3 linked regions of the Homo sapiens genome follow. The protein of the gene in region 1 purifies or fractionates together with the protein of each later gene. This does not show direct contact. Each region holds a gene or a part of one and is shown in the gene's direction. Other genes may lie near its edges.

Region 1 (7,757 bases):
CAGGCAAGAGAAAGAAATAAAAGGCAAAAAAAAAGAAAAAAAGAGGAAAATAATAATTCAAATTGTCCCTCTTTGAAGATGATATAATCTTATATTTGGAAAAACCTAAGGACTCCACCAAAAAGTTATTAGATCTGGTAAATGAATTCAGTAAGGTTGCATGATATAAAATAAACATACAAAAATCAGTAGTGCTTCTATACACCAACAATGAAATAGCTGACAAAGAAATCAAGAAGATAATTCCATTTGCTACAGCTACAAAAAAAAATAGGAATAAATTTAACCAAGTAGTTGAAAGACTTCCACAAGTAAAACTACAAAACACTGATGAAAAAAATTGAAGATGATGCAAACAAATGGAAAGATGTCCCATGCTCACCGATTGGAAAAATTAATATTATTAAAATGGCTATACTGCCCAAAACAATCTATAGATTCAATACAATGCCTATCAAAATACCAACATCATTTTTCACAGCAATAGAAAAAACAATCCTAAAATATTTATGGAACAAAAAGAGCCCAAATAGCCAAAGCAATCCTGAGCAGAAAGAACAAAGCTGGAGGCATCACATTATCCAACTTCAAAATAAACTACAAAAGTATCATAACCAAAACAGCATTGTATTCATACAAAAACAGACACATAGACCAATGGAACAGAAGAGAGAATCCAGAAATAAATCCACATACTTACAGCCAACTGATTTCTGACAAAGGCACCAAAAACACACAGTGGGGAAAGGACACCCTCTTCAATAAATGGTGCTTGGAAAATTGGACATCCAGATGAAGAAGAATGAAACTGGACTCCTATCTCCCACCATCTGCAAAAGTCAAATCAAGATGAATTAAAGACTTAAAGTAAGACCTGAAAGTATAAAACTACTAGAAGAAAACACAGGAAAAACACTTAAGGACACTGGTCTAGGCGAAGATTTTATGGCTAAGATCTTAAAAGCACAGGCAATAAAAACAAAATAGACAAATGGGACTATATTAAACTAAAAAGTTTCTGCACAGCAAAGGGAATTATCAGCAGAGTGAGGAGACAACCTGCTGAATGGGAGAAAATATTTGCGAAGTATTCATCCAACAAGGGACTAATATCCAGAATATACAAACAACTCAACAGTAAAAAATCAAAAAATCCCACTTAAAAGTGGGCAAAGGACATGAATAGACATTTTTTTTTTTTTTTGAGAAAGAGTCTTGCTCTGTCGCCCAGGCTGGAGTGCAGTGGCATGATCTCAGCTCACTGCAACCTCTGCCTGCCAGGTTCAAGCAATTCTCCTTCCTTAGCCTCCCAAGTAGCTGGGATTACAGGCATGTGCCACCACGCCAGGCTATTTTTTTTTTTTTTTTTTTGTATTTTTAGAAGAGACAGGGTTTCACCATGTTGGCCAGGCTGGTCTTGAACTCATGACCTCAAGTGATCCACCTACCTTGGCCTCCCAAAGTGTTGGGATTACAGGCATGAGCCACCACGCCCAGCCTGTATGTCTTCTTTTTAGAAATTTGTAGGCACTCTTAATACATTTAGACTAACTCTGTCATATATATTGAAAGTGTTTTCTTTTTGTCATTAACCTTTTATTGAGATAAAACTTACATACATACATCAGAATGCACAAATCATAAGTTTACAATCATGTGAGTTTTGATAAATTTACACATTGGTATAACCACTCCATCCCAATCAAGGTATATAATCTTTCTACCACCCCAGAAAGTTCCCTCATGGTCCTGTCTAGTCAATCTCCAGTCCCTCACTTCCAACACACATAGATAACCACTGTTCTGAAATACATCGCCATATCATTTTGCAAGAAATTTCAATTGACATATAATTTTTTTTCTGTTAGCACTTTAAAGATGTCACTCCATTCACATGACTTACCTTCTTTCCAATGAGAAGTCTGCTATTCTAATCTTCATTCTTCTGGATGTAATGTGTCATTTTCCTCTGTCTGCTTTTAAGAGTTTCTCCTTGCTTTCTGTTATCAGCAGTGTGAATATGACCTGACTAAGTGTTTTGTTTATTTGTTTGGAATCCATTGCTTCCTAAATATTTTGTTTGGTGCCTACCATTAACTTGGAGAATTATTGGCCATTATTTCTTCAGATTTTCTGCCTCATTCTCCTTTTTTCTTCTGGAATTCTAATAATGCTTAAGTCAGATCACGTGGCTGTAAGCTTAGTGGCTTAAAACAACACACACTTATCTCAGAGTTTTTGTGGGGTAGGAGTTCAGGCACAGCTTAGCTGGCTTATTCTTGGGTCTTACGAGGCTATAATTAAGTTGTCAGCTGGGTTGCATTCTCATCTGGAGGCTTGACTGGGGAAGGATCAAAGCCCCCTCAGATTCCTGGCAGAATTTGTTTCCTTGAAGTTGTAGGAATTATGGCACCTCGCCTCTTCAAAGCCAGCAGCTGAGAGACCCTTGAGAATAAGTCTGAGAGCAAGATGGAGTCTTTTATAACATCAGGTAATCATGGGAGGGACATCCCATCACCACTGCCATATTCTGTTGTTTAAAAGCAAGCCACAGGCTCTGTCCACCCTCAAGACAAGAGGATTATTCAAGGATGTGAACACCAGGAGGCAGGGATCATATGTCTACCTTACAACCTGTCCACCCCATAGGGGAATAATATTAAGGCAAGAGCTGAATCTAGTGTTTAGCGGAGGTCCTGGTGGGAGATACAGATTTTAGGATCATCAGCATATGGATGGCATTTAAAGGAATGGAACTGGATGAGCTCACTGAGGATGTAGATAGAAAAGATGTGCAAGGACTGAGCCCTGAGGTAAGGCACTCCGATGTTAAGGAGTCAAAGTGTTACCAGTGTGCCCTGGCATCTTGTAATCTCCCAGGATAGAAATAAAGAGAGATCAGCAGACATAGCAGCGAGGAGAAAGAGAAATCTTTATTTAGCTTGTGCACAAGGAAGTCAGCACCATGAAAGGAAAACGGTGGGGGGCCCCGCCGCCAGGGGGTGGCACGTGGGTTAGTTTCACAGGGAAGGGATTGGTCCAGGCATGGATAGGAGGGGTTTGTCTAGTGCTTCTCAGTAGCTTTGCATGCTTCTTCATGCATTGCATGCAACATTCACATTTTAAATCTCTACCCCTAGGTGTGATTTTTAGCGTGAAAATGAGGAAGGGGTAACAATAGTTGAAGTATAAGTCTAACTGCACATGTGGGGCCCGGGGAAGTCCCTAGGCCCCCAAAGCAGGAACTTGTGGTTAATAGCTTCTTGGGTCTTGTGCTGTGGATTGGCTGGATGTTAAGCTACAACTTGAGGAAGGGGCTTTCGTTCTTTTTCTCTACACCCCATCAAAACAGGCAAGCGGCCAGGCTGCCGGTTTTAAAAGGAGAGACTGGTAACCGAGACCCAAAGATGTGGTCTTTGGGATAAGAGGAAAGTGAGAGCACATGGTGTCCTGGATGGGGAGTGAAGAAAGCATGTGTAGCAAGAATGACTATCGATTTTGCTGTAGTTCCCGGAGGACGAGGACTGAGAACTGACCACTAACAATATAGAGATCACTGACAAAGAGTTTTTAGTGGAGTGGTTGTGTTACCGGAAAAGGGTCCTGATCCAGACCCCAAAAGAGGATTCGTGGATCTTGTGGAAGAAAGAATTCCAGGCCAGTCCACAGAGTAAAGTGAAAGCAAGTTTATTAAGGCAGTGAAGGAATAAAAGAATGGCTACTCCATAGAGCAGGGTGTTCCCAAAAGCACGAGGAGGAAGGCGTCCACCTGGGTACGCTTGTTTATATGTAAGATAAAAGCCAAAAAACATCACGGGGGAGACGTGCTGTACTACCTGGGCTCGTCAAAGGATTGCCAATCTTTGCATAACGCCTGTCCTCCGCAAGCATCTGTATCATTATCTTTAAAGCGAAACTTCAACTAAGAATGCTTCTTGTTCTTAAGATACCCGGACATCGGGACCTAAGTTCCGGGTCTGCTGCGTAAAAGTTTATTAACCTGTTCCCGTGACCGTAAACGCCCGACTCCTGGGGATGCAGCCAGCGGGGTTCAGCCTCAGTTTACCCAGCGCTGTTCGAGCTGGAGTCGCTCTGGTTGGAGCGCCTGACCGCGAGGGCCGAGGTCAGGCCGGACTGGGGTTCTCCGGAGCGAGCAGGAGAGGAGCGGGGCTCCTGCGGAGCGGCGCGGCGGGGAGGCCGAGGGCAGGGCGGGCTCGAGCTCGGGCTCTTCTGGCAGCGCCTCCATCCCCGTTCCGTTCACCCGGCAGCCGCCCCGTGGAGGAACCGCGCCCCATCTTTAGCCCTGTGAAACAGAAAGGCCCTTCCTCCGGCAGGCAGCTGAGGGAAAGATCGCCCTGCAGGGGATGTCGGGCCTGTCACTGCTTTGTTGCGGGCCACAGTTCCCTCCCTTCTCCGAGCGGGTCGCACGTCCGAAGGTCACCCCCGCCAGGTGGCTAGGCCCTGTCGCCACTCGACAGAGGACCGAGGAGGAACCAACCCACTGCCCAGACTGCAGCGCCGCCACGCTAGGGCCCGCGCCGACAACCGTCATGACTGGGCATGCGCAAACGGCCCCGCCGGGAGCCATTTCGCCGGGCTGCAGGGCTCGAGGAGAGAGCAGGTGCGCAGGCGCCGGGCGAGAGGCTGCGCCTGCCCTACCCTGGAGCGCGCGTGCGCGCGAGAGCCGGAAGGGGCGGTGCCTGGCGCGGCGCCTGCGCAGTGGGGCGGTGCCGGGGGCGGGGCGCGGCGGCTGTCAGCTGACTGTGGCGGCGGCGGCCTCGAGGTGACAACTGTCTCCGTCGCAGGCTCCGGCGGGGGCGCAGGAGGTCGCCCGGCGCGTCACTGTCGGGTCGGCGAGCCACGGGGGCCGCCGCAGCACCATGGCGACCACCGTCAGCACTCAGCGCGGGCCGGTGAGGCAGCCGGGCGAGGGTCGGGCGGGGGCGGTGACCTGCGGTTGCGGGCGGGGCCTTGGGTCAGGGCTACTGCTCAGCTGCGGCTGGCGGGCCGACTCCGCGGCTCTCCCGGGGCACGCGGGGCGCCTGGCCGGCCGGAGGGGAGCGGCGGCGTCCACACCTCGGGGCGGGGCGGGCCGGACGGACGCGCCCACGCTGCAGGAGGCTTGAGCTCACCGCCGTGCCGGGGCAGAGCTTTGGGGAGGCAGCCCCGGGGGAGGGGGCCTGCGCCCGTTGTGAGCCCCAGATGGAGGCGGGCCCCGTGCCCCATGGTGCCCCAGAGGGAGGCAGGCCCCGCTCCCCAATGGTCTCCAGATGGAGGAGGGCCCGGTGCCCAGATGGAGGCGGCCCCGAGCTCTGACTCCCGAATGGAGGAGGGCCCCGCACCCTAATGGTCCCCCAGGTGGAGGCGGGCCCTGAACCCTAATGGTCCCCTAGATGGATGCGGGCCCTGCTCCCTGATGGCCCCCCAGGTGGAGGCGGGTCCCGCACCCTGATGGCACCCTAGATGGAGGCGGGCCCCGCACCCTGATGGCCCCCCCAGGTGGAGGCGGGTCCCGCACCCTGATGGCCCCCCAGGTGGAGGCGGGCCTGCACTCTAGTTGGTCCCATAGATGATGGCTGTTTCCTCTTTCTCATTTACACAGAGTGAGGGCAGTGGTGACCACTTCTTGGGCCCAATTGTGTCCCCGGTTAGTGGCCACCGTGCAAAACCTCAGTTTCTTCATTTGCAAATGAGAGGATAGGCGCCAGGAACTTCAGAGAACCTTTCCTGCTCTGAATTCTCTCCTGAGAGTTGCCTGGCAGTTTCTTCTATAGCATTAATATTGCAGGAGAGCTGGTGTAGACTGACTCAGAGATGATGGGCTCCTGGCGTGAGTGGCCTCCTGGCTCACTGTTAGGGCCTTCTTGCATTGCTGTAAAGGAATACCGAGACTGGGTAATTTGTAAGAAAAGAGATTTAATTGGCTCCCGGTTCTGCAGGCTGTACAGGTAGCATGGTGCCGGCATCTGCTCCTGGGGAGGCCTCTGGAAGCTCCCAGTCATGGCGGAAGGCCAAGTGGGAGCTTACACGTCACATGGCGAAAGCAGCAAGAGAGTTGGGGGTGGGGAGGTGCCACACACTGTAATGACCAGATCTTGTGAGAACTCACTATCACCGGGACAGCACCAAGCCACGAGGGATCTGTCCCTGTGACCCACACACCCACCCTGCCAGGCCCCACCTCCAACATTGGGGATCATAATTCAGCGTGAGATTTGGCGGGGACACAGATTCAAACCGTGTCACTCACTGAGGCTGGGCTGGGGCAGGCTGTCGTGAGCGGTACAGTTTTTATCAACAGTGGCTCTGAACATGCCGTGGGTGGAAAAAGTCCTTTTTCACGATGCTCCAAGGTCCCTGCCCTCGCGCAGCCCAGTACTGGACGTGGTGGAGGGGTCACCAGGGCTCCCCACCCTTAACACTGTATCCACAAGTCCTGGTGTTTCTCCCGAGGAGATAATTCTTCAGGTAGAACATTTTTTCTGAGTTTAGAATGAAGCCCCAGGTTTTGGGCATAGCTGCTTTTTCTGAGGACTTTGAAGGAAACCTCCTGACACTTATGAGACTCAGGTGTGGAGCCTACGGGTCGGCAGAGGTCCTGGACGGCCTCTGATGGCAGCGTCTCTACCTCTTCATCTTTACTCCACCACAGTGAGTCCCCGCAAGTTGCCGTGGCAGCCAAGTGCTCCTTTCTGCCTAACAGGAGACTCAGAGCAACAAGGGAACCAGCACCCTGCTGTTGTGTCCTCCTGGAGAGCAGGGGGGCATGGTGGCCAGGCAGGATGGCCCCTTCCTTGCTGTGTGGTCTGGGAGACATCCTCTGCCTCCTGGGAACTTGTTCCTCATCTGGAACCCCACTGGGGTGTAGGACTGATTTTGAATGCATCAGGTGCTGAGCAGGCAGGGAGCAGTGGGAGGCAGGCCCTTCCTGTTCTGAGGGGCACCGGCGTGCAGCGCTGTTACACCCGCGATGAGGAAGTGGGAGCGGCAGGAGATGTTCTCACACGCAGGGCCTGTGCTGGCAAGTGCTGAGGTGTCGTTAGAATCTCCTCTTGCCCAGTGCCTCCTGGGCTGTTTCCATCATGTAGACGAGCAGGTATTTCAGGGGCACCCCCGTTGACCGGTAAACGCATAGTAACATGAGGTCTGGCTCGGAGCTGCCAGGGTCTCTTAAGAAGGTGTTGTCAGCGACGGGGGTCTCAGGTGTTGCTTGGAGTACATGTGACTTAATCAACCAGCGCTACCAACTGTGGCGTTCAGGATGGCCATGATGCAGGGGACAACCAGGTGGTTCCTGCCACTGGGGTCTTCCAGGGCAGCACGGTAGACATGGCAGCACATAAGGACAGCTGAGCTGTGTGGTGACGGCCCGGTGGGTCTGTGATCTTAAGCGTCAGGTGCTGGGAGAGTTTGTAAATGGGCCTCACCAGGGCTGGGTGTTGGGGTGAGGACGTGACATCTCTCGGAGGAGGAATGGGAGTAGGGGTTGGGCTGGGAGGGCAGGGCACGGAAAGAGAGGTGTGGGGTCTGGAGGTGGAGAGGAGGGAGCCCCAGGGGCCGAGGATGGAGGGAGGCAGGAGCTGGAGGCCGCCGGAGGGTCCTGGGCACAGGAGGACTGGACTTGCCCTGGAGTTTACCGGCTCAGCGCAGCACTCTGTAAAGTGTTGCCTGGCACACGCAAGGCAGGGCCCGCCTTGGCACCAGCCTGCTTCGCTGAGCATGACCCACCCCAGCCCCTCTGAATTAACCCATAGTGG
Region 2 (6,918 bases), on another chromosome or scaffold:
AGGGCCTGCAGCAAGGGGGGCCCCGCGTCCTATCAATGTGGGGATCAGGCATGGCCTGGGACCTCAACACCCCGGCATCGCACAGGTGTGGGAACGGGCCAAGGATGGGCCCTACTGATGAGCAGAGGCCCCCAGGCAGCTGGAGCGCTCAGGGCAGTGCCAGCGCTTTCTGTGGGCAAGGCACCGGGCTGGCAGCCTCGAGTCCAGCCTTATCTAAGCCGGGCAGGTGTAGGAGCTAGGACCGGGCTGACGCCACTGTCTTCTCTCCCCAAGTTCCAACGTCCTTCTGGATGAGAGGCTGACACCCAAGCTGGGAGACTTTGGCCTGGCCCGGTTCAGCCGCTTTGCCGGGTCCAGCCCCAGCCAGAGCAGCATGGTGGCCCGGACACAGACAGTGCGGGGCACCCTGGCCTACCTGCCCGAGGAGTACATCAAGACGGGAAGGCTGGCTGTGGACACGGACACCTTCAGCTTTGGGGTGGTGAGCCACTGACCCCTCTGCTGGCTCAGAGGAGGAGAAGCCACAGGCAGGCAGAGGTGGGGGCTGCAGAGTGCACTGCGGGCCAGGGGCCATCTGCCAAGACCCCAGGAGGCTGCAGCTCCAGGGTCCCCCTCCCTCCGAGGCCCTCCTCCTCACCCTGCACCTAACTGTGTGTTTGTAATTTGTCTTCAAGTGGGCTCTCCGAGTTGCCCGAGCTTCAGTCCCATAACATCTGGCTCTGCCTTTGTCCACACCCTTGTCAGGCCCAATCCATGTCCACACCAGAGGCCTCTTCCCTGCCAAGGCCACTGCCATGCTCTCCCTCTTCCCTCTCTCCAGGTAGTGCTAGAGACCTTGGCTGGTCAGAGGGCTGTGAAGACGCACGGTGCCAGGACCAAGTATCTGGTGAGCCCCTTGAGGCAGGGCCAGGAGGGACACACAGCTGCTGGCAGCCAGCAGGCACAGCCCCAGTGGCGGGGATAACTGGGGCGCAGTGCCCATGGATGCCTCTGCTGCCACAGTGGCCTCATTTTTGAAAGTAGGCAGGGCTCCAAACAACTTCGTTTACCTTGCCGAGGACAAACCTGTCTGTCCTGCAGACACTATGGGCCTTGTACAGACCCCACCTGGGCTGGGGGCAGGGGGAAGGGCGGTCCCAGGGCACTGAGACCCAAGCTGCAGTGGAACTCAGAGGACTCTGGCCGGAGAAAGGCGGTGGTAGAGAAGAAGCAGGCCCCGAGGAACCTCCTGGGCCCCAGCAGGCTGCAGCTGAGCTCTCCGCACCGTGCAGGGCAGCCTGAGCTGCCTCACGGTCTTACTCCACTCAGTCTGCCTCACCGTGGACTGTGGTGGGGCCAGGAGACTAGAGACCTGGGTTTTAGCCCCAGCCTGACAGTGGCCTTCCAGCAAATTCCTGCTCCCCTGTGGGCCTGTTTTCCCATATGCAAAACAGACTTCACAGAATGTGCTCAGCCAGTAATTGCTTCACTGCTTCTCCTCTTGTTTGGGGCGGTTCCTGTGTGCTGTGGGGTCTCCGTCAGGATTCAGCCCCGCTGAGAACCCAGGAGCCGGGCTTGAGCCCTCCTTCCTTTCCCTTCCCCGTCCGTCCATCCATGCATCCTGCTGAAGAAGCGCACCAGGCTCCTTGGGGGTCCTTGGACTTCCCCACTTGCTCCCCACCCTGCAGCCAAAGTGCTCTTTTCAAAGGCCCCTTTGCCTTTTCTCTGCTCTTGGGGTGAAGGCCCAGTCCCTTATGTGGTTGACCCCCCAACGCCCCAGGTCCCTGGGACTCGGGGCGCTCCCTGCTGCCTGCTTCACAGCCTTAGTATGTGCCGTTCGCTCTGCGAGAAAAGCCACCGCCCACCCAGGTGGTTCCTCCTGGTCTGTCTGATTTCAGAACTGGAGATGGCCTCCGGTCCTGTTTCCACCCTGGGGGCGCCTCTCTGCGGGGCGCCTCTCTCTCTGGGGTACCTCTTTGTCTGTGGGGCACCTCTCTGTGGGGCGCTTTCCTTCTCGGCTCTGCCCTCTCAGGCTACTTCCTGCCTTCAGACCCCAGCTCCATGGGGCTCTCCCCCACCAGGAAGTCAGCTCTGTCAAACCGGGTCCCAGGGTTCTGTTTGTTCCTGTATCCCTAGGGCCCAGAGCACCACTGGCCCACAGTAGGTGTTTAATAAATCTCTAGAAGCTACTCGGGAATCTGAGGCAGGAGGATCGCTTGAGCCTGGGAGTTGGAGACCAGCCTGGGCAACATAGCAAGATAGGCATGGTGGTACACACCTGTAATCCCAGCTGCTCGGGAGGCCGAGGTGGGAGGATCACGAGCCTGGGAGGTTGAGGCTGCACTGAGCCATGATTGCACCACTGCACTCCAGCCTGGGTGACAGAATGAGTCCCTGTCTCAGAAAAAAAGTAAGTTGTAGAAAGACCAAGAGCTGTGGCACAGTGTCTCACACCTGTAACACCAGCACTTTGGGAGGCTGAGGCGGGAGGATCACTTGAGCCTACTTGGAGACCAGCCAGGCCAACAAAGCGAGACCCCATCTCTTTTTTTTTTTTTTTTTTTTTTATCAAAACCCATACGATTGAGTGACAAGGACCTGAGGACTGCAGCTGCAGGTGTGGCCACCTGGTAGCCATACTGACAGTATTTATCCCACAGAAAGACCTGGTGGAAGAGGAGGCTGAGGAGGCTGGAGTGGCTTTGAGAAGCACCCAGAGCACACTGCAAGCAGGTCTGGCTGCAGATGCCTGGGCTGCTCCCATCGCCATGCAGATCTACAAGAAGCACCTGGACCCCAGGCCCGGGCCCTGCCCACCTGAGCTGGGCCTGGGCCTGGGCCAGCTGGCCTGCTGCTGCCTGCACCGCCGGGCCAAAAGGAGGCCTCCTATGACCCAGGTAGCCAGCTGCGCACTGGGACGGGGTGGCCAGATAGAAAGCCCGCATTCCAGGCCTTGCTCTGTAGTGACCCCATCTCAGCACCTGCTAGGTCTCTCTGGAGTCTCCACACATTTCTTGCTTGCCCTTTGGTTCTGTTTGGGGCAGCGCCCCTCTGAACTGAGGGGCCCCGGGCAGTCCTGCTTTGCGGAGCCCAGCTCCGACCCCCTTCACATAGAGAGAAGGAAAGAGCTGCTGCCGCGCCCCCTGCTGGGCGCACTGCACTACTGCATCTGCCTTTTTCTGTCCCCTCCCTAGTACCCCACCTCTTCTCCTCTGGTGACAGTTGAAAATGGAGAGGCCCCGTTTGAGGGCAGCGGGGCAGTGAGATTCATTTTGTAGAAAAGAACGAGGCCATTCTCAGTCCTTGCTTTTGGCAGCCGCGCTTCTCAGCACTCCCTGTGATGGGAACAGAGGGGCGAGGGGCAGAGCGTTCCCAGCTGCAGGGTATGTCATTTTAGAGCCCTGGGGCAGGTCACGGACGGCCTGGAGCAGCCCTGTGGTTTGCCCACGGGGTGACCGGCCAGGGCTGCCATCTCACCCTGAGAGTCCCTCTTTTCCACTTGCAGGTGTACGAGAGGCTAGAGAAGCTGCAGGCAGTGGTGGCGGGGGTGCCCGGGCATTCGGAGGCCGCCAGCTGCATCCCCCCTTCCCCGCAGGAGAACTCCTACGTGTCCAGCACTGGCAGAGCCCACAGTGGGGCTGCTCCATGGCAGCCCCTGGCAGCGCCATCAGGAGCCAGTGCCCAGGCAGCAGAGCAGCTGCAGAGAGGCCCCAACCAGCCCGTGGAGAGTGACGAGAGCCTAGGCGGCCTCTCTGCTGCCCTGCGCTCCTGGCACTTGACTCCAAGCTGCCCTCTGGACCCAGCACCCCTCAGGGAGGCCGGCTGTCCTCAGGGGGACACGGCAGGAGAATCGAGCTGGGGGAGTGGCCCAGGATCCCGGCCCACAGCCGTGGAAGGTAGCTGGGGAGACGGGTTCCCAGGAGAGGGACCAAGGCCTCTTTGGGCCAAAGCCCCTGTAAGTCCCCACCCCAGCCTTCTAGAAGAGAACCAGGGCCAAATGTTCAGCTCACTGTGACCTTAGCAACCCTGGTTTCCCCTCCCCAGGCCACATCCTTCCCAGGTGGAGCTTGCTCTCCAGCCCTCCCCCCACCCCATTCCTGAAGGCTGGGAACAAGGAGGGCTCTGTCTGGTAGCCTGAGAGCTGGGCCCTGCCCTTGGACTTCTCTGAGGAATTCAGGCCTGAGGCCAGGGAGGCAGGGTGCTAGGCTGCGGGCTGGGGAGCCACAGCATGAGGCTAAGGGAGTGCCATCTCCACCCCAGGACTGGCCCTTGGCAGCTCTGCATCATCGTCGTCAGAGCCACCGCAGATTATCATCAACCCTGCCCGACAGAAGATGGTCCAGAAGCTGGCCCTGTACGAGGATGGGGCCCTGGACAGCCTGCAGCTGCTGTCGTCCAGCTCCCTCCCAGGTGCTGCCGCCCAGGCTGGCCTCTGGGGTGCTCAGGCGCATCCGTGTCAGCCCCAAAGAGCAGAGTGTCTGTCCCGACTGCGCTGAGGGCGTGGGGCAGCCGGGCAGGCCACTGGCTCTGGCGACCTCTAGAAGCCCAGCCGGCCCCACATGCCTCCCTTAGCAAGACCCTGGCCCACTCCTTCCCTCGCCTCCTGACAGTAGCACCTCCTTTAGCCCGAGGGTGCCTGCCCCACTCTGTGCTTTCAGGAAATAGGAAGCCCCAGCAGGAATTTTCCATCCCAGGTACTATTTGAAGAACCACTGCTTAGGAACCCTCAGCTGGGCGAGGTGGCTCATGCCTATAATACCAGCACTTTTGGAGGCCAAGATGGGAGGATCACTTGAGCCCAGGAGGTGGAGGCTACAGTGAGCTGTGATCAAGCCACTGCACTCCAGCCTGGGAGACAGTTAGACCCTGTCTCAAAAACAAATGAACAAACAAACAAAAACCCTCAATTCCCACGAACGCCCCAGGAGATAAGGGAGCATGGCCCAGGCCTTGAGCCAGGGCTTCTGGCAGTAGGGGAGCCTCCCCCATTTGCTAAGCGGACTTTCCTCTTCCTTCTGTAGGCTTGGGCCTGGAACAGGACAGGCAGGGGCCCGAAGAAAGTGATGAATTTCAGAGCTGATGTGTTCACCTGGGCAGATCCCCCAAATCCGGAAGTCAAAGTTCTCATGGTCAGAAGTTCTCATGGTGCACGAGTCCTCAGCACTCTGCCGGCAGTGGGGGTGGGGGCCCATGCCCGCGGGGGAGAGAAGGAGGTGGCCCTGCTGTTCTAGGCTCTGTGGGCATAGGCAGGCAGAGTGGAACCCTGCCTCCATGCCAGCATCTGGGGGCAAGGAAGGCTGGCATCATCCAGTGAGGAGGCTGGCGCATGTTGGGAGGCTGCTGGCTGCACAGACCCGTGAGGGGAGGAGAGGGGCTGCTGTGCAGGGGTGTGGAGTAGGGAGCTGGCTCCCCTGAGAGCCATGCAGGGCGTCTGCAGCCCAGGCCTCTGGCAGCAGCTCTTTGCCCATCTCTTTGGACAGTGGCCACCCTGCACAATGGGGCCGACGAGGCCTAGGGCCCTCCTACCTGCTTACAATTTGGAAAAGTGTGGCCGGGTGCGGTGGCTCACGCCTGTAATCCCAGCACTTTGGGAGGCCAAGGCAGGAGGATCGCTGGAGCCCAGTAGGTCAAGACCAGCCAGGGCAACATGATGAGACCCTGTCTCTGCCAAAAAATTTTTTAAACTATTAGCCTGGCGTGGTAGCGCACGCCTGTGGTCCCAGCTGCTGGGGAGGCTGAAGTAGGAGGATCATTTATGCTTGGGAGGTCGAGGCTGCAGTGAGTCATGATTGTATGACTGCACTCCAGCCTGGGTGACAGAGCAAGACCCTGTTTCAAAAAGAAAAACCCTGGGAAAAGTGAAGTATGGCTGTAAGTCTCATGGTTCAGTCCTAGCAAGAAGCGAGAATTCTGAGATCCTCCAGAAAGTCGAGCAGCACCCACCTCCAACCTCGGGCCAGTGTCTTCAGGCTTTACTGGGGACCTGCGAGCTGGCCTAATGTGGTGGCCTGCAAGCCAGGCCATCCCTGGGCGCCACAGACGAGCTCCGAGCCAGGTCAGGCTTCGGAGGCCACAAGCTCAGCCTCAGGCCCAGGCACTGATTGTGGCAGAGGGGCCACTACCCAAGGTCTAGCTAGGCCCAAGACCTAGTTACCCAGACAGTGAGAAGCCCCTGGAAGGCAGAAAAGTTGGGAGCATGGCAGACAGGGAAGGGAAACATTTTCAGGGAAAAGACATGTATCACATGTCTTCAGAAGCAAGTCAGGTTTCATGTAACCGAGTGTCCTCTTGCGTGTCCAAAAGTAGCCCAGGGCTGTAGCACAGGCTTCACAGTGATTTTGTGTTCAGCCGTGAGTCACACTACATGCCCCCGTGAAGCTGGGCATTGGTGACGTCCAGGTTGTCCTTGAGTAATAAAAACGTATGTTGCAATCTCGGGCTCTACTTGTGGACTTTGTTGCACCGAAAGCCTTGAGCTTTCCTGATGCCTTACACTTCAGGGTTCTTGAGCGTCCAGGGTCTTGTTACTACTCTGGGCTGGCCACACCCAGCACTTCCCGTGTCAGGTTTTTCCTGATGTAGTCCATGTTTTTTATGCTATTCTAAATGGTATCTTTGATTTTCTAGTTCATCATGATATTATACAGAAATGCAATTGATGCTGGGCACGGTGGCTCACGCCTGTGATTCCAGCGCTTTGGGAAGCTAAGGCGGGCAGATCACTTGAGGCCAGGAGTTTGAGACCAGCCTGGGCAACATGGCGAAACCCCGTCTCTACAAAAAGTACAAAAATTAGCCAGGCATGGTGGTGCATGCCTGTAGTTTGAGCTACTCAGGAGGCTGACCCAGGAGGATAGTTTGAGCCCAGGACGTTGAGGCTGCAGTGAGCCATGATTCCACCACTGCACTCCAGCCCGGGCAACAGAGGGAGACCTTGCC
Region 3 (7,280 bases), on another chromosome or scaffold:
GTGCAATGGCACGAACTCGGCTCACCGCAACCTCCTCCTCCTGGGTTCAAGCGATTCTCCTGCCTCAGCCTCCCGAGTAGCTGGGATTACAAGCACCTGCCACCATGACCGGCTAATTTTGTATTTTCAGTAGAGACGGGGTTTCTCCATGTTGGTCAGGCTGGTCTCTAATTCTCGACCTCAGGTGATCCACCCGCCTCAGCCTCCCAAAGTGCTGGGATTACAGGTGTGAGCCACCAGGCCTGGCCTAAGAATCTACTCTTTTAAGAAGGTTGGATGAGAAAGAAATAAAAGCGAAGGCTAAAGCAAGAGGAGGCTGCTGAGTGGAGGAAGGTATTTCATTTTATTATGTCTGCTGGGCAAAGATCAGTGAAGAGGCCGAAGTTGGTTACAGGAGAGATTGTGAATAATGGATGGAGGTGGGAAAGGACAGGATATAACGCACACCTGCAGGGCCTAGTCCCAGCCAAGGGAGCTGGAGAGTGTCTATTCTTCCCAAGAAGGAGGAAGGAAATCAGAAAGTTTCATTCAGTGGTTCTCACATTAAAATCACTGAGGTATCTTAAAAAAAATGCCAATAGCTGGGTCACACCTCAGAAGTTTCTGGTTTAATTAGTCTGGGATGGTCCTGGGCATTGATGTGTTTTCAAAGCTTCCCAGGTGATTAAAATCTGCAGTCAAAGTTCACAACCACTGGTTTAATTGCAGGTAACATTTTAGATTAATGATAATGGGATTGGATTTGAGGAAACTCACACTTAATAAAGGTTGGATGAATAGGGAGTGGTCAAGGTTTCATAGATGAGGAAGGGAGAAAGAGAAGGAAGCTAGAAGGGAAGGCAGCTAATGCTAACTTATTGAATTTTATGTGCCAGAGATATAGAAATGAATGAGGCATGGTCCTTCTTCTTAGAGATCAGGATCTCACATGACAGACACTTCACCACAAGCCTATGACATAATACAGTTCTTGACCAGTTAAGTTTTTTTGTGTGTGAGCTACTTTTATTCTTTTTTTTTTTTTTTTTTAACTAAAAGTGAAGGGGGAAACCCCTCACACCCAGAACCCAGGTATTTCCCAATATAGACTGGGTCTGGAAATCCTTTTGTGAGCATTGAGAGTAGCCTTTCTGGGAAGGTGGGTGCTGGGGAAAGATCTGTAACTATTCCGGGAGATCAACTTGTACCCAGGCTCATCAGCAGGGCTGGAAGTAGATGGTGATTGTGGCCCTGCATGTGGGTACATTACTGCAGTCACCTGTACCTGGGAGGTGGCTAAAATTGCTAATTGCTTACATGGAAACACTTTGATGGCCATTCTGCTATAGTGTGAAGCTTCTATGAGTAAGGTACCAAGGATTCCCTTTCTCTGAGCAGCATTGTAAAAAGGCCCTACTTTTCATCAGAGCAGAAAACCTAACTTTTGCTACTGTGGTCTGGGCCTGACCTCCAGGGACAGCTTCATCCACACAGGAAGTAGGTAGGTGCTTCTCTATAGTCTGGACCTTCCCTCAGAGAGAGTCTACTGTCACTTCTTGAGTTCCTTGAATCTTCCCCAGGAGGGTCCAACTCCCAGGGCTCCTGGGAAGCCTCTGATCTGACCCCACCAGCCCCACCTCCACCTAGTGAGCTGGTGAGGTGTTGAAAGGGCTTTAATGGAGGGCCCTGGCTTTTAGCTAGGGGCCTCCTTCCCCGAGGAAGAGTACTGAAAGAAGTGTCCTAGAGAAGTGTTCTCTCCTAAGAGAAGTATCCTAGGCACAGAACAGAGAGGGGAAACTCGACTGGGAATTGACTGTGGCACTATGAGTATATGGAGGGTGTTCCTTCTGTTACCTCATTAGACCCTTTTTATATAAGCAGAAATTGAGGCTTGAAGAAATTAAGAAATTCGACTATGTCCTCAAGGACAGGAGCTGTACAAAATCCAATCTGTTCCATTCTATTGTCCCTCAGGCTCTTGGCCTCCCTCTGTTATTGTAGGTTGGCCCCTTTAGGAAAATCTCAGTTGAATGTCATTTCAGTGCTCTCCTTCCTTCTAAAGAATTAAGCTAGGTCCCTTAGACCATAGGGCACATGGGCCTTCTAGCTGGGTCTCTGTTTGCTTACTCAGTGACTTGGGGACGTGTGAAATCCAGATGGGATTCTATCCTGAGGTGAAGGTAGAAGGTAATACAGAGAATTGCTGAATGGGACAGACCACACCAATAAAATTTTTTGTTGGACTCTGTAATCCAGTGTTTTCATTGCAGAGATGTAATTGAAAGCCCCCAACCTCACCGTCAGAGAAAGGAGGGACTAAGCTTATTCTAGCCTGATGCCTGATACCTGTTAATTGGGAAGCCTTGTCTGTTAACATCCTGACTTAGGTTTCAAGCTTTCAGTGGGGCCAGACTATGGAATTATCTGTAATTCTGGCATCAGAAGCCCTTTTTCCAGTTCTTTGGGCCATTTTGGGGTCTGTGAAACAGGCTAGCAGCATGTGAAGATAATTCACACTAAATCTGCCTGAGAGTCAAGACAGTGCCACGGCAGCCCCGACTCTGTGTCAAATTACACACTAGCTGCCTAGCACTGGGGTGTGCTTTGGGGCAGGGCTGGGGACACCCATGTCCTCCCTACTTCCCTTAACCCTTCCCCAGCTCTCCTGCCACTCCCTCATACACCTGGTCGTGGTCACTGCCAGGAGCCCCAGTGCGGCCCAGTGCCTGCACATGATAGGCACAAGGTGAATGAGTGCCTGGACGCATGCAGGGACTTGGGTACCTGAAATGATGATTCTGCATATTTCATGTAGTCTTGATGCTGAGTCACCTGCTTACCCATACTACTGGAGGAGGGGATGAGGAAAGACAGAGTTTGGGCAAAGGAGAAAGGAAGTGTGTTTTACTGTTCTGCATCTTTGAACAATGCAGCATAGTTGGTTCTGTCCTCATCTTTGGACAGGTTAGAATGAACCATCAAAAGGGGTGAGATTAGGTCTCAGGAAATAGTTTTCATCAGGGAGGAGCAAAAATTCCCAAACAAGTGAGGAACAGAGGCTGGGAGTCTCTTTCTCTGGGATTCCTTAATCACAGGGTTGTTCAAGCAGGTGCCAGGATTGGAAACTGAAGGAGGCTGAGATATTGAAAAGGCCTTGGCCTGCTTAGGGAGAAGTATGTGAAGATGCTTTTGAAATGATACTACTCTAAGTGGCGGGTTGCACGGCAATAACATTAATGATAATTGAATACTGCTTTCACTTACTCCAAGGGGAACATGGACTTCCCACAGCCCAGGCTTTTACGGTGTGGGTTCACTCTTGTAGGGTCACATGTAAAAGAACCCTAACTGGTTTCTTGGCATACTGGGAGGCACAAATGCCCCAAACGTGTAGGATATTTTGTGAGATCCTACAATCCCTGTGTGGCACCTTCAACTCTAAAGTATCTGAAACTCCTGGGATGGACAATCTGCCTGCTTGGGGTTGGGGACCCAACTGGCCAAGGCATTTTTCCTCTTGGAGGTTTCCTGGGAGAAGGCCCCCTCTCCTCTGCCATTCAAACTCCCAGGCGCCCGCGTCTTTTCCTCCTCCCCTTCTTCCCTAAGGCAGGGTTCCCTTTGTAATTAATCCCAACACTCAAACCAGAGGGGAGGAAAAATGTGTTAATGAGGGAGCGTCCCAGACTGACTGGGGCGGTCGCTGCTCGCAGCTAGAACTCCAAGTAATTAAATTATTTTTGGAAGGAGGGGATATGGTGGTGATGGTGTCAGGGAAATCCCCGTATGCATGGGAAGAGGCGTGCGCCTCTCGCCACTAATTAAAATCAGGGATGACCCTCCCTTCTCGGACCCCTAGGGGGAAAAAAAAAATCAATCTTCCCACGTCCCAGATTCCATTGGATTTTGTGTAGTCGGGTCCGTGGCCCTAAAGAGAATATGGCCAGCCCCAGGGATCTGGGGGCTCCTTCTCCGACAGGAGGGGTCCAGGAAGACAGCCCCAGGAGGGACTGCGGGCTGGGCCAAGTCCAAGAATCGAGGCATTCCCCTGCCCACCGTTCGGGACCCGAGTGTCAGCCCCACCGCGGATTCCCAGGATCGGGGAGGGCCGCTGGGCATCTGAAGGCGCAGGGCTGGGGGAGCGGCGACTCCGGGAAGAGCGGGGCCGCAGACAATGGACGCGGCGGTAGGAGGGGCGGCGGCTGTGGGAACAGCCGGGAGGCGGCACCCGGGAGCTCGCGCTCCCCCGCCCCCTGCACCCCCCACCCTCATCCCCTCCCCCTCCGCCCCCTCCCCCCTGCGCCGCCGGCTCCCGATCTGATTCCTGATCCTTGATTCCTTGATCCTTGGTCCCGCCATGGGAGCCTGAGCGCCCCCTATTCCCCCCTGGCCCCCAGCCCCCGGGGCCTTGAGGGGGAAGAGGCAGCGGTCTGGGACGGAGCAGGGGGTGACCAGACTCAAGAACCCCCCCCTCAACATCCCCCATCGCGCGCGCTGCCTGTCCAGGAGCGCCGAGTTCGGAGCGACCCGGAGCGCTGCGGATACAAAGGCGACGGGCCGAGCGGGGCGCCCGCGGAGCCCACCCGGCAGTTCGCAGCGGCGGGTGAGTGCCGGGCCGCGGGGGCGCGGGCAAAGTTTGAAAAAAAAAGAAGAAAGAAAGAGAGAGAAAAAAAGAAATGGAAAAGGAGGAAAATCATGCAAGGGGCCAGGGGGTGCCCGACCCCAGAGCGAGCGGGGTGGCTTATGGGGGAAGGGGGGCTGGACTCCGGGCAACCCCCTTCCGGTCCGCTTCCCCACTGCACAGCGGAGTACCCCCCCCAACTTTGGGGAGGGGAAGGGGCTCGTGGGGAGGGGGCGGAGCCCAGGCCTGGAGAGCCGGGGACTTTCCTGGGCCCGGGCGGGGGCCTTAATGATCCCAGGGGAGCCGGTTGAAGCCGGAGACGGGGAGCTTGTGTTGGAGGTGGGGGGAGAGGCGTGGAAGGATCGGAGTCTGGAGGTATTGGAAGCCAAGGGTGTTTTGGGGTGCATACACCCCTCAGGAGCGTGGGGAGGGACGGAGGCAGGTATGCGTTAAGGGTGTAGAGTGGAGTCAGGGGGGCGGGTTGGGCAGAGTAGATAGGGTGTATGTACAGACCGAGGATGGGGCTGGAGGCGGTAGACTGTGTATAGGGGCCGAGGGGACAGGCGCTGGCATCCCTCTCCCCACTCATATTTACCCATCTGGGGGACTGTGGGCTCTGCGTTAGTGAGTTTTGAAGGGTTGGTGGAGGATCCGTGTGCATGATTCTTTGTTTTGGTGTGTGTGCACGCCTTGACGTGCTGCATGTTCCTGCAGGTGGGCCCCTGGTTTGGATGTGTAGGTGTTTTTCTGTGCTTGAGTGTGTGTGCACCCAGGGAGCGGCTGACCATGCATCTGCTGTGTGTTTGGATATGTGTTTATATGTATACTTAGGGGAGGGCGTGTATGTCTATGTGTGTGTACTGGGAGAGGGGTTCACGGGAAAGAGGTGTGTAGGTACTGAGGAAGGTGGGTGTGTAAGAGCAGAATGGAGTGTATGTGGATAGGTGTGTGTGCACCTGTGTACTGGGAAGGGGTGTGAATCTGTGTTCTCTTGTGTGTAACCTGTGTTGATGGGTATCAATGTGTGTGCCTGCCTTAGCTGGTATGTATGTTTCTGAGTGTGTGTCGGGGGTACCTCTAGACTCTGCAGGCAGATTTTCCTGGCAAAAATCCCGAAAAGAAGGCTGTCTGCAGGATTTTGAGACTTCGTGGATGGCCTCGCCTGGGTTTAGGGGTAGTACCTTAAGTATCTGAGACCTATGGGTGGGAGGGAATGAGTTGTCTTATGAAGTGCCTGTTTTTGGGGGATGGGTTTTTCTGGAAGAGGGCGTGTGTTGTGGGGAATAGGGAACAAGGGGTCTGGTTGTAGTCCTAGAGGAATTTGGAAGATTGGCGGGGTCAGGGAGAAGAATAAGAGGAACTTCCTCCCCCATCGTCATAGGCTGGGTTCCAGCGCTTGGAGAAGCTACACTCTTGGATTCCCAGCCTTAGGTAAAAGCTTCAGGCCACAGTTCTCTTGGAAAGCCGTCTCAGAGTTTGCTGCTTCATAGCCTTCTAACTCTGCCCTGACTCTAAGATCCTAAAGTTCCTGAGGAGTCTTGAGATTTTGGTGTGGGATGGAAACAAGAGGAGGAAGCATGTCTGGAGGGTTGAGACCTGGTGGGGAACAGCTTGGGTTCCCTGCCCATGGGGTTGAGAAGGTGGCATAGGGTGTTTCTTCAGCAGCTTTTGCAAGTGAGTCTGTGTGGTTTATCAGACCAAAAAGTTTCCCTTTTCCCTGGTGTCAAGCATGATTGAGATGGAGCTGTGGGTGTGGGGCCAGGGCTGAGTGTCTGTGTGTCGGGAAAGGGCCAGGTACCCATTGCAGGCTATACTGCTATACTCATCATCATGATAGTGTGGTGGGAAGTCAGTGACTATCCAGGAAGTGAATGTCTCTTTCCACCAAGAAGCCACAGCTCCCTTCTCTCCCTGTCCTCTCTCATCCTTTCTCTTTTGGGGTATAGGAAAGGGGTTGCTCACCTCCTTCTTTAGGATACTAGCCTTCCCCCATTGCACACTCTTTTTGCTGCCAGTGGCTGGGTTGAGGCACCCAGTTTTAAGAGCTGAGGTGAGATTGTACATACCCATTATGGTCTCTGGGCAATTGCAATTGGAATGTTAGAGTCTCTAATGGGCATGTGCAATTGGAATGTTCCCTCTTTAGTCCTCAGGGCTCCCTACCCTCCCTAAGGCCTGGAGATAAGAGTAGTAGGGGTTAGAAAATGTTTGAACGAGGAACGGGGAACGGGGCAGAGTAGGAAAAGACCTTTAAAAGACCTTTTTTTTTTTTTAATGGATCATTCCCCCAAACCCAACACCTGTCTGATAGTTAGGGCTCCCAGGGCTAGTAAGGCACTTGCATCTAAGATGGTGTGCCCTGGCCCTCTGGGGTCCCTTGTTTGCTCTGTATACGCTGATCACATGCATGATATATTATGCTGGTGGGGGCTCTCTTCCAAAGAGGAGGAATTGTGGTCAGATAATAGGAAATGCCATTTCTGAAAGTACTTCCAGATTGGGAGTCAGTGGCCACGTTGGCCCCTCCTCACCCATTGTCTTGCTCCTGACTTCTATTTCCTCTAATTCTTCCGGGGCAGGCCTCTCTGGTGTGTTTGCCTCTCCTCCTGATCCTTTTAGATCTGAGGAAATATCCCCCCTTCCCTGGCCCTAGAGCAGGACAGTTTTTTATCTGCTCATCTGG

The links.
Region 2: the proteins of TOLLIP (region 1) and IRAK1 purify together in Homo sapiens (affinity purification with western blotting; 11 studies listed by BioGRID and IntAct, with this or other methods). This does not show direct contact.
Region 3: the proteins of TOLLIP (region 1) and VANGL2 purify together in Homo sapiens (affinity purification with western blotting, with the first as the bait; 2 studies listed by BioGRID). This does not show direct contact.

What each region holds. Positions count from the first base shown.
Region 1 is NC_000011.10:1,306,622-1,314,378, reverse strand, and holds the start of TOLLIP (toll-interacting protein), read left to right. Parts: upstream 1-4,746; 5' UTR 4,747-4,880; coding exon 4,881-4,913; intron 4,914-7,757. UniProt on the Homo sapiens protein: Component of the signaling pathway of IL-1 and Toll-like receptors. Inhibits cell activation by microbial products. Recruits IRAK1 to the IL-1 receptor complex. Inhibits IRAK1 phosphorylation and kinase activity.
Region 2 is NC_000023.11:154,010,000-154,016,917, reverse strand, and holds the end of IRAK1 (interleukin-1 receptor-associated kinase 1), read left to right. Parts: intron 1-273; coding exon 274-481; intron 482-820; coding exon 821-886; intron 887-2,639; coding exon 2,640-2,876; intron 2,877-3,484; coding exon 3,485-3,875; intron 3,876-4,239; coding exon 4,240-4,389; intron 4,390-5,000; coding exon 5,001-5,059; 3' UTR 5,060-6,411; downstream 6,412-6,918.
Region 3 is NC_000001.11:160,396,291-160,403,570, forward strand, and holds the start of VANGL2 (vang-like protein 2), read left to right. Parts: upstream 1-4,273; 5' UTR 4,274-4,579; intron 4,580-4,884; exon of another isoform or gene 4,885-5,039; intron 5,040-7,280. UniProt on the Homo sapiens protein: Involved in the control of early morphogenesis and patterning of both axial midline structures and the development of neural plate. Plays a role in the regulation of planar cell polarity, particularly in the orientation of stereociliary bundles in the cochlea.